2 linked regions of the Homo sapiens genome follow. The protein of the gene in region 1 interacts with the protein of each later gene in a pairwise test. Each region holds a gene or a part of one and is shown on either strand. Other genes may lie near its edges.

Region 1 (5,525 bases):
GTCTCAAAAAAAAAAAAAAAATCACAGCTAGGAGAGTGCAAGGCATGAATGAGACGCTTGCTTGTTTGGCTACATGAGGCTCAGGAAACAGCTCTAGAGGGCAGGGCACTGGAGGCCACATTATGGAAAGGCAAAGGGATGGTTTAACCTAGACGCAATAGGGAGCACCTAAAAACTATGGAGAGTGACAGTGACCCAACTGGGATACTTAAAAGAATCAATGGGTGGGAATGGGGCAGGAAAAGATAACCAAATCCCACAGCATGGACTAGGATCCAGGAAGGTTGGTTGCTTAATGCCACAGGCAAATAATTCCTTGGACTATGCAGGCTCCTGTTCATTCATTCAACTACCCAGTGCCTACTAAATATCAAGTTTTTTGCTAGACACTAGTGAGCAGCACATTGCTTTTTTTTCTTACATAGCTTGATAATGCGATGGGAACTGGGGGAATAAAGTACTATGAAATTACAAAGGATGAGTACCTAGTCCAGCTTACATCAGTAAAGGCACTCCAGCTAAGTCCTAAAGAACATAAAGGGGACAGGCTAAAATTTAGGAAGAATGATTGTGGCAGAGGCAACTTGGCATATGTAGAGGCCTGAAGGAGAACAAAAAAATTTCATAATGGCTGGTGTGAGAGTGTGAAGGGGGGAAGCATTCAAGATACAACTATAGGCCAGGTGTGGTGGCTCACACCTATATAATCCCAGCACTTTGGGAGGCTGAGGTAGGCAGATCACCTGAGGTCGGGAGCCCAAGACCAGCCTGGCCAACATAGTGAAACCCCGTCTCTACTAAAAATACAAAAATTAGCTGGGCATGGTGGCATGTGCCTGTAATCCCAGCTACTGAGTCAGTAGAATTGCTTGGACCCGAGAGGCGGAGGTTGCAGTAAGCCAAGATTGCACCATTGCACTCCAGCCTGGGTGACAACAGAGACTCCCTGTCAAAAAAAAAAAAAAAAAAGATACAACTATAGAGATAACCAGGAGTAAGAATATGAATGACCACTAAGTAAAATTAAGCCATTGAAGGGTGTTTGCATAAATGAATGACAGGGTCATTTTTGACTGATTTTTTTAAAGAATCAAGACTGCATTTTTCAAAGGATGCTTGGGCTGCAGTGCAGATAATGGATTTGTATGGCAAGAGTAAGGAGTCCGGAGGAACTACTGAAATTAGTTCAGGTAGTGGGTAATGGTAGCTTGAATTAAGGATGTGGAGATAGAGAAATAAATGTATTTAACAAATTGTAAAGATAGGGCTGGGCTTAATGGCTCATGACTATAATCTCAGCACTGTAGGAGGCCGAGGTTGGTGGATCACTTGAGGCCAAGAGTTCGAGACCAGCCCGGCCTATATGGGGAAACCCTGTCCTTACTAAAAATATAAAAATGCATTCAAGTTGGATGTAATGAGTTGGGTGGGGTATTGTGGGTTATGAAGTTGTCATGTCTACTAGCTGGATAAATGGGTCTGGAAGTTCAAGAGAAAGATCTGGGGTAATGTCACATAATGGGGAGTCTTTAGCATAGTTGGCCTTTGAAACCACAGGAATGGATGAAATTGTCCAAGAAGCGTGCATAAAGTGGGAAAGCTCTGAGGAACTCTGAATAAACAGAGGAGGAGAAAACTTTTTTTTTTTTTTTGAGATGGAGTCTCACTCTGTTGCCCAGGTTAAAGTGCAGTAGTGCAGTGGCACGATCTCCAGTCACTGAGTAGCTGGGATTACAGGCGCCCACCATCACGCCTGGCTAATTTTTGTATTTTTAGTAGAGATGGGGTTTCACCATCTTGGCCAGGCTGGTCTTGAACTCCTGACCTCGTGATCCACCCACCTTGACCTCCCAAAGTGCTGGGATTACGGGCGTGAGCCACTGCGCCCGGCCAAGAAAACATTTTTTAAGGTAGTGAAAAAAAATTTAATGAACAGCAGTAAATCCTGCCAAGAAGAGTTACTGAAAAGTATACATTGGATCTAGTAACAAGGAGGACCCTGATGACATAGGTCCTTGCCAGTGCAGTGGTAGGGGTATAAGAGGCTGGAAGGGGCTGTGAGTAAGAGAAGTGGAAACAGTACAGATAACTAAGGTTGTGAAGAACAGGAGATAACAGTTTATTAATATGGCATAGAGGGAGGTGGTGGTGGCAGTTTTTGATGGAGACCTGTTAAAATGCTGATAGGAGAGAGACGGTGGAAAGGAGAGTAGCATAGTTGTTTGAAAGCATGAATCTGCAGTCTGGTTGCCTGGGTTTTGAATCCTAGCTCTATAATTGCTAGGTTATCCTGAGGAAGTCACTTGCCCTCATAGGGTTGTGAGGATTGTTAGATCAAATTATCAAGAATACTTAAAATATGCCAGACACATACTAAGCAGTATATAAAAATTAGTTTGAGAAACAAGCTTCCCTAAGAAGGTAGAATGCTTGTTTCTCAAACTGGTAATTTTTATATACTTTGTTGTGAAGCTCTATGCATCTAGAGCACAGGTGGGAGAATTAGCCTTAGAAAGGATGGTGGTCTCTTCTATTCTGGTAAAGAAGGATGAGTGCAGATGGAGAGTTTATAGGCTGCTTAGCAAGCTAAAGAAACTCATGTGTGATGGCTTCTATTTTCTCTGTGAAGTAGGTGAGGTCATCCCTGAGAAGGGAAAAGGAGAGTTTGGAAGTGGTAGGAATGGGAGCTGATGTTGCAAGCACAGTGAAGGTTCATACGAGGTTAGTGATCATATAGTAACACTGATTTGCATAGTTGTATGATTTGTCTCTAGCAGTGCTCAGCAACCTAGGCGGATTGCTGGATTTAGCCAGAGTTGAGGTTTTGCTAGCTGGTCACAAGCAGGAGGGAAATGAGGACTGAGGACTGCTTTGCAGGTTGTTGGTCTGATAAGAAATTGTGTCCCACACCTTGTCTGGACAGCTACTCTGATATGACTGGTGAGGTGGTGAGGTCAAACTCTAGCCCTGCCTGAGCATGCATATACTATACTGCTCCCACCTGCCCTTGGACTGCCTTCCATATCTAAAATGTATTCATTCTTCAGATTCCAGCTGGCTTGTCTCACTGCCCCTCAGGAACCCCTGCTTTCAACAACTAATCAAGTGTATAGACTTTATGTTCCTCTCTTCTAGCAATGACAGTCTCCCCTGCTATGAGGCATACAAGCCTTCCTCTCTAACCTCCTGATCATACCCCCAATTTGCCCCTCCCACCTCCCTAGAATTAGGCACACAGCTGGTGCTGCTAGGCAATCTAAGCCCAATCCCTGCCACTCCAGGGTGCTCACCATTGTAGGAGAGTGTGAGGCTCTCCAGTGACACCCAGGAGCTCAGCAGGTGGCATAGTGTCAGGGCTGCCTCTGTGGAGAGTGGAACTGTGAATAGCTCCAAGGTGGAGATGCTGCGGAATCTTTGTGAAGCTTCCAGTGCTGGAAGCCCCAGGCAGCTGGGATCTGATCCATCCAAAGCTCCACAAGCCACTTCCCCAATCTCCATCTCTTCGCCATCCTCCTTCTCGCCAGCCACAATAAAAACGAAGTCATACAGGTCTTCAGACTCTGCACCAGGCCCCTGACGGGTGCGAGCACCCTTCTTCCCTGCAGCTCGCTTGAAACGCTTTAGGGGCTTAGGCTGTGGGGCTGAGCTAGCTGGTGCCCGTTTGTATGAGGATGTAGAAGAAGAGGCAGAGGAGGTGGCTGCTGGAGCAGAAGGTGACCGCTTGGTGCCAGGAGCCTCATGGGAGGTGGCTGGGGGGTGCAGCTCCCTCTTAAGGTCTGTTCCGCCTGCTGTCAGGCTCTCCTGTGTGCTCCGGCGTGTTACCCGAGTGGCAGGTGCAGCTCTGGGCATCTGCTTGGCTTCACTCTTACGCCGGCTGGCCATCAGGGCTGCAGCACATCGCTCAGCAGCATCCCGGCGGGGCCGACGTGAGCCCAATAAGAGGGACCCTTCATCTCGGGATGGGGCCCGGCCTCGGGAGGCCTCTCCACAGAGGCGGCAGGGTGGGCCACCAGGCCCTGGTTGCCAGAAGCCAGCACTCATGGTGAGAATAAGGATGAAAAGGGCTGACTCAGGCACAGGCCAGGAGTATAGCGACACTTGACTGACAGCCCCATGGTGAATGAGCTGATGCAACAGCTGCCGAAGTGACTGCTGAGCAGCCACATCAGAGAACAGCAGGTGGCGGAACTTGAGAGTGTGCAGGGAGCTGGCCAGGGTCTCCAGAACCCTGCGGTTGGGCTCAGCCACCAGCTCGGTTGCACCCTGCAGCATGTTACAGATGGTGAGCTGTCGGACATGGCGGGAGCTGTGCAGAAGAGGTGAGAACCGCTGATCACAAAGACGCCTGTCAGAAGACACATCAATGGTCCCACGTAGAACATGGGAAAAAAAGGCCTCCATAAACTTGGCTCGCCAACATGTCACACTCTGAAACGCAGAAAACATGCCAGACAGCCATGATATATCCATGAAACTGTCCAAATTTCCCTCTCTTCCAATAGCACACTATTTACTGAGTCAGGCAACACTACAAATTCATTTAATCTTCACATCTCTGAGGTATGTATTATTATTAGCCCTATTTTACAGGTAAAACCGAGGCACAAAGAGGTGGCCACACAGGTAAGTGGTTGGATTATTTGAACCCTGGAAATCTGGTTCCAGAGACCATGCTTTTATTATAGTGTCTCCACTGAAACACTCACCCCTGTAAGTTCTTCCATGTTTGTTTCTAGAACCTTATCCCAATTTTTTTTTTCTTTTTAAGATAGAGTCTCACTTTGTAGCCTAGGCTGGAGTGCAGTGGTGTGATCTCAGCTCACTGCAACCTCTGCCTCCCAGGTTCAAGTGATTCTCGTGCCTCAGCCTCCAGAGAAGCTGGGATTACAGGCGCCCGCCACCACACCTGGCTAATTTTTGTATGTTTCATCATATTGACCAGGCTGGTCTTGAACTCTAGACCTCAAGTGTTCCGTCCGCCTTGGCCTCCCAAAGTGCTAGGATTACAGGTGTGAGTCACCGCACCTAGCCCCTTATCCCAACTTCATTTTTTTTTAGACGGAGTCTCACTCTGTCGCCCAGGCTGGAGTCCAGTGGCGTGATCTCGGCACACTGCAAGCTCTGCCGCCCGGGTTCACACCATTCACCTGCCTCAGCCTCCCGAGTAGCTGGGACTACAGGCACCCGCCACCACGCCAGGCTAATTTTTTGTATTTTTAGTAGAGATGGGGTTTCACCCTGTTAGCCAGGATGGTCTCGATCTCCTGACCTCATGATCCGCCCGCCTCGGCCTCCCAAAGTGCTGGGATTACAGGCGTGAGCCACCACGCCTGGCCTCCAACTTCTGATTCTTACCACCACCAGCCCCTTATCACCTCACACCTGACCACTAGCTTCCTGATTGCTTTCCCTGTCCCCAAAGTAGTGTTGTAAAACACTAATTACATCATACTGCTTTAAAACCCTAATGTCTCCCTACTGCCCTTCCACCCTCTGCCTGAGAAGCTTTATTTCCCACATCTTGC
Region 2 (5,108 bases), on another chromosome or scaffold:
GCCAAATAAGTACGATCACACTTTCTCCGCCTCTCTTGTTCTTGTGCCTACCCAATAAACAGCATCTCCACGTGACAAGACAAGGACCCCAGGGGTCTTCCCAAGCAGTGGGCAAGCTACCCCTTGCCCCCCATGGCACATTCACCAGGAAATTAAAGCCCCACGTGAGTACCCATACCCTGGGAATCAAAATCTCAAATGTCACCCTCCTGCCCCCGATCTCGTCTGCCCTGGAATGGGATGCAGGAGGTGGCAGACGCCTCCTCGTGGAGATGCTCTGAGCAGTGAGCCCAGGAAGATCCACAGCAAAGCCTTGAGCCTCCCACTGCTGCTGTGCTGCTGTGACTTCACTCGTGAGGAAGCAGCGGTGCCCACCTCGCAGGCAGAAGACCCAGGGCACGGCTGACTGGGGAAGCTCTCAGGTCTCCCACTTCCCCCATAAGCGAGTCCCCAGGCCAGGCAGGCTCCCGTCACAGGCTCGCCTGCTGCCGGCACCTTCACAGACCCCACTGGGCTGTTAATTTGACTTCCATGCTCGTGACTCCTGGCTGAACATCTGAACAGAGGCGAGGGCTATTTCTGTTCTCCTCAGTCTCCCCAAGGGCCAGCTCTGAGCCTGGCTCCCAGCCAATACTTCCTTTTTGCTGAAGGATTTTAAGACCTTCCAGAAACTTCTTTTGTTCAATCACTTGTGACAGCAGTTGGTCCTAAGGTCACTTGGGTCCAAGAGTGTAGTTACTTTTGGATATTCCTTGCCCCTGACCCTGGCAATACTGAGAACAGAGATATACCCCCGCCCCATGCCCTGTTTGTAAACTTCATCCTGCTTCCCCACCAGGCACACGCAGCCTTGTGGACCTGGCCCTCAACACATCCCCTGTAAAATCCCATGGGACCCACTCCGCCCTGGGCTGGGTCCTCGCCTCTTTTTTTTTTTTTTTTTTTTGAGATGGGATCTTACTCTCTTGCCCAGGCTGGAGTGCAGTGGCACAAGATCACGGCTCACTGCAACCTCTGCCTCCTGGGTTCAAGCAATTCTTCTGCCTCAGCCACCCAAGCAGCTGGGATTACAGGTGTGTGCCACTACACCCAGCTAATTTTTGTATTTTTAGTAGAGACTGGGTTTCATCATGTTGGCCAGGCTGGTCTCAAACTCCTGACCTTAGGTGATCCTCCCACCTCGGCCTCCCAAAGTGCTGGGATTACAGGCGTAAGCCACTGCACCAGGCCTCTCACCTCTCTTTAGTCACCCCTGAATGTATGAGTGTGAGATCTGGAAAACAGGGAGCGTCCAAAATTGATGTGGCCAACCAACCTGCTCACCCTTAAAGTGTTTATTTAAAGGAGTGAGAAGAGACAAAATGGACCTATTCTCTATTGACACGATCATTTCCCTCCAGGTTCCTATATTATCTAAAAATGTAAGTTGAGGCCGGGCACGGTGGCTCACATCTGTTATCCCAGCACTTTGGGAGTCCGAGCGGGCTGATCACCTGATGTCAGGAGTTTAAGACCAGCCTGGTCAACACAATGAAAGCCCATCTCTACTAAAAATACAAAAAGTAGCTGGGCGTGGTGGCGCACGCCTGTAGTCCCAGCTACTCGGGAGGCTGAGGCAGGAGAATCACTTGAACCTGGGAGACAGAGGTTGCAGTGAGCTGAGATCGCGTCACTGCACCCCAGCCTGGGTGACAGAGTGAGACTCTGCCCCCGCCCCCAAAATAAATAAACAAATAAATAAAAATGTAATTTGAATTTGTCCTTTTCTCAGTATTATGGGCTGAGCTGTGTCCACCACTCCCCTCCACAAAGAAATATTCACATATTGAAATCCTAAACCTCAGAACTTCAGAGTATGAGTATATTTGGGATTTTTTTTTTTTTTAAGAGATGGGGGTGTCGTTCTGTCACCCAGGCTGGAATGCAGTGCCATGATCATAGCTCACTGTAGCCTCAAACTCCCAGGCTCAAGCGATCTGTCTGTCTCAGCTTCTTAAAGTGCTGGGACCACAGGCATTCACCATCATGTCTAGCTAATTTTAGTATTTTTTTGTAGAGATGGGATCTTGCTATGTTGTCCAGGCTGGTCTTAAACTCCTGGCCTCAAGTGATCCTCCTGCCTCAGCCTCCCAAAGGGCTGAGATTACAGGCGTGTGCCACCAAGCCTCGCCTAGAGACAGGGTCTTTATGGGGATGATTCAGTTAAAATGATGTCATTAGGGTGGGCCCCCTTCCATATGACTGCTGTCCTCATAAGAGGAAATTTGGACACAGAGACAGGCACAGAGGGAGGACGATGTGAAGACCCAGGGGAAGACGGCTATGTATGAGCCAACAGAGAGAGGCGTGGAACAGATTCTCACAGCCCTCCGAAGGCACGAACCCTGCCAACACCTTGATCTTGAATGTGATCTTAAACGTCTGGCCTCTAGAACTGCAAGCCAATATACTTCTGTCGTTCTGGCCACCCAGCGTGCGGTTCTGTTACAGCAGCCCTAGCAAACTCAGGCACCCAGCAACAACAGTCATGAAACACCCCTAGCGGGGCTCCTTCTCTTGCACATACAGCCCTGTGCAGCAGGGCAGAGATGGGTTTTAAACAAGTGAGTCAGACAAGGATATCTTATTCATCACTCCGACGAACCCATGGGCTGAACCCTTGAATCACTACTTTATTTATCATCGGGCTCGGGCTCAGAAAGTCTCGCTGAGGAAATGAGTAGAACCCAAACTCGTCAGCTGCATTTCTGAAACATGCCTAATCTCTGAGGCTCTTTCCCAGCCACGATAGAAATTGAAAGGGAACGGGGCTCTGGGCTGCGGCGGTGGGCTGGTGTGGAGACAGAGCCCTTTGTTCTGCCACTCCAGGGACCACGAGGGCAGAAGAGAAGGGCTTGTCTTGCTTTGCCGAGAGGCCGCCTGGGGCCGTCTGAATGGCCGGCCGAGCAGGGGCAGCCTGGCACAGCTGGGCTGGGGATGCCGGGCACACAAAGGGCTGGTGGGTGGGGTGTGGGGGCAGCACCCAGAAGGGACCGTCAGTCCCGTGGCCCCAGAGCGTCTCCTCCAATCAAGGTAAAGCAGCAAAGTCACGGTCAAGGAGGGGGCCAAGCAGGGAAGGGGACAGCAAGATGGACCAAGAACAAAAATTCAGCAGTATGTGCTTGGGAACGGGCGGGCGAAAGGGCCCATGGAAGAGATAATGCAGCTTACAAAAGCGACGTTTATCCGGGGCAACCTCCAAAGTAGCTCTTGGGAGAGAATCTAATACCTCTAATCTCAGAAGAAAAGCAACAGATCATTCTAAGACGAGGACAGTTCCTCCAGAAATCCAGGTCAGTCACAAGACAAAGAAAAGACAAGGGCACCCGCTGTCCACCCTCGGGCACGTTGCCTACCCTCCCACAGTCCGTTCCTAACGGTTCCTCCTTTTTATCAAGACCCGCTCCCTCCTGATTAAGAACTGACTGGATGGCAGGATTCAGTTCCTGGTCTCTGCCCCTGTTCCCACTCTTAGTGGCAGTTCCTCAGGGGCTCCACAAACACCAAGGACCCACCAAGGCAATGATGGGCCCTAGAGGGGAACCAGGTTTTACTAATGAGCATCACATTTCACCTGGCGGGGGAGGTGATTCTGCCCCCAGGGGACACGTGGCCATGGCTGGAGTCATTTTCAGTTGTTACCCCTTGGAGGGGATGGAATACTACTGGCATCTCATGGGTGACAGCCAGGGACACTATTCCACATTCTACAGTGCACAGCCCCAACTGTCAATGGTGATGCGGGTGAGAAACGGCCCTGGAGATTTGGGTTTCCCCAGTTAAAGGTTACTAAGGATCCTGCATGTTTCTAGAAAGCTCAAGGAACCATCTCTGAAGTCATCACCTGCCTGGGCCTGTTTCTGTATCAGGAAGATAAGAACAAGGACCCTCGCACTGCCGGTTGGCAGAATGAGAGAGCTGGGATGCCCTGTACAGGCCGGGCTTCAAAGGTATCTGCTTGTGCAATCCCTTCCACCCGGAGTGGTTTAACACGTGGTATCTTTCCAGGTTTGACCTGGGGCCAGCCACTACTTCCGAGGAAACTTGCTGGAATCCCCCTTGTCCTAAAGCTTGCATTGGTTGTCCCTAATTCTCCCCCCATAATATCTTGTGGCCCCTCTGTCACCGTACTGATGACCTGATCTGAATTCCATTCTTTTTTTTAATTATTATTATTTTTGAGGGCATCTTGCTCTGTCACCCAGACTGGAGTGCAATGGCGCAATCTTGGCTGGCTGCAAACTCCGCCTCCTGGGTTCAAGCAATTCTCCTGTCTCAGCCTCCAGAGTAGCTGGGACTACAGGCGCACATCACCACGCCGGGCTAATTTTTGTATTTTTAGTGGAGACAGGGTTTCTCCATATTGGTCAGGCTGGTCTTGAACTCCTGACCTTGTGATCCACCCACCTTGGCCTCCCAAAGGGATTACAGGCCTGAGCCACCGCGGCCCAGCTTGAACTCCATTCTTTCTGAAGAGGAAGTGCAAAGTTGTCGGGGGCGGGCATTAGCGTGTCCGTCCTCTGGGTCATAAGGATTCACCTCTGTCCCCAGGAATCTACCAAGTGTCTGGCACAATCAACCCTTGCCTAACTGAAATCTAGGCCCACCCAAGACACACCATTTGGAAGAGATGAGGAATGGGAAGCAGCAAGTTAACAAGTCCATGTGGGGAGAGAATAACGAATCCTACAGCCAAACAGAAAGGGGAGATTCCCACGTCTCTACCTGCTCCACTGAGTCACCAGACTGGACCCGAGGGACGGTACTGCCTCGGGATTTCCAGAAATTTGCAGTTTCCAAAGCTTTGGGAATAGGTGCAATGTGCAAAAGCACCTTCAACACCGCAATTTTCTATTTGGACGATGAAGAAGCGGTTGAAAAAAAATCATTTTTGGATACAAACTGTCGAATGGAAAACGGAATAAAAGTAGGATCATCGCAGCCAGGAATGGAGAGTGGGGGTGCTGTGAGGAGTTCAAGGCCGGGAGCTGGGGGACATGGACTGGAGACAAGACGGTGATGAGAAGAGTTGGGTTTCAAGGTTGAAAAACGCTGATGGAGGTCAATTC

Evidence for each region. The genes of interacting proteins can lie anywhere in the genome.
Region 2: the proteins of LRRC41 (region 1) and MYO9B interact in a two-hybrid assay, tested with the Homo sapiens proteins (one large-scale study listed by BioGRID and IntAct).

What each region holds. Positions count from the first base shown.
Region 1 is NC_000001.11:46,282,072-46,287,596, forward strand, and holds part of LRRC41 (leucine-rich repeat-containing protein 41), read right to left. Parts: intron 4,429-5,525; coding exon 3,291-4,428; intron 1-3,290. UniProt on the Homo sapiens protein: Probable substrate recognition component of an ECS (Elongin BC-CUL2/5-SOCS-box protein) E3 ubiquitin ligase complex which mediates the ubiquitination and subsequent proteasomal degradation of target proteins.
Region 2 is NC_000019.10:17,077,649-17,082,756, reverse strand, and holds part of MYO9B (unconventional myosin-IXb), read right to left. Parts: intron 1-5,108. UniProt on the Homo sapiens protein: Myosins are actin-based motor molecules with ATPase activity. Unconventional myosins serve in intracellular movements. Binds actin with high affinity both in the absence and presence of ATP and its mechanochemical activity is inhibited by calcium ions.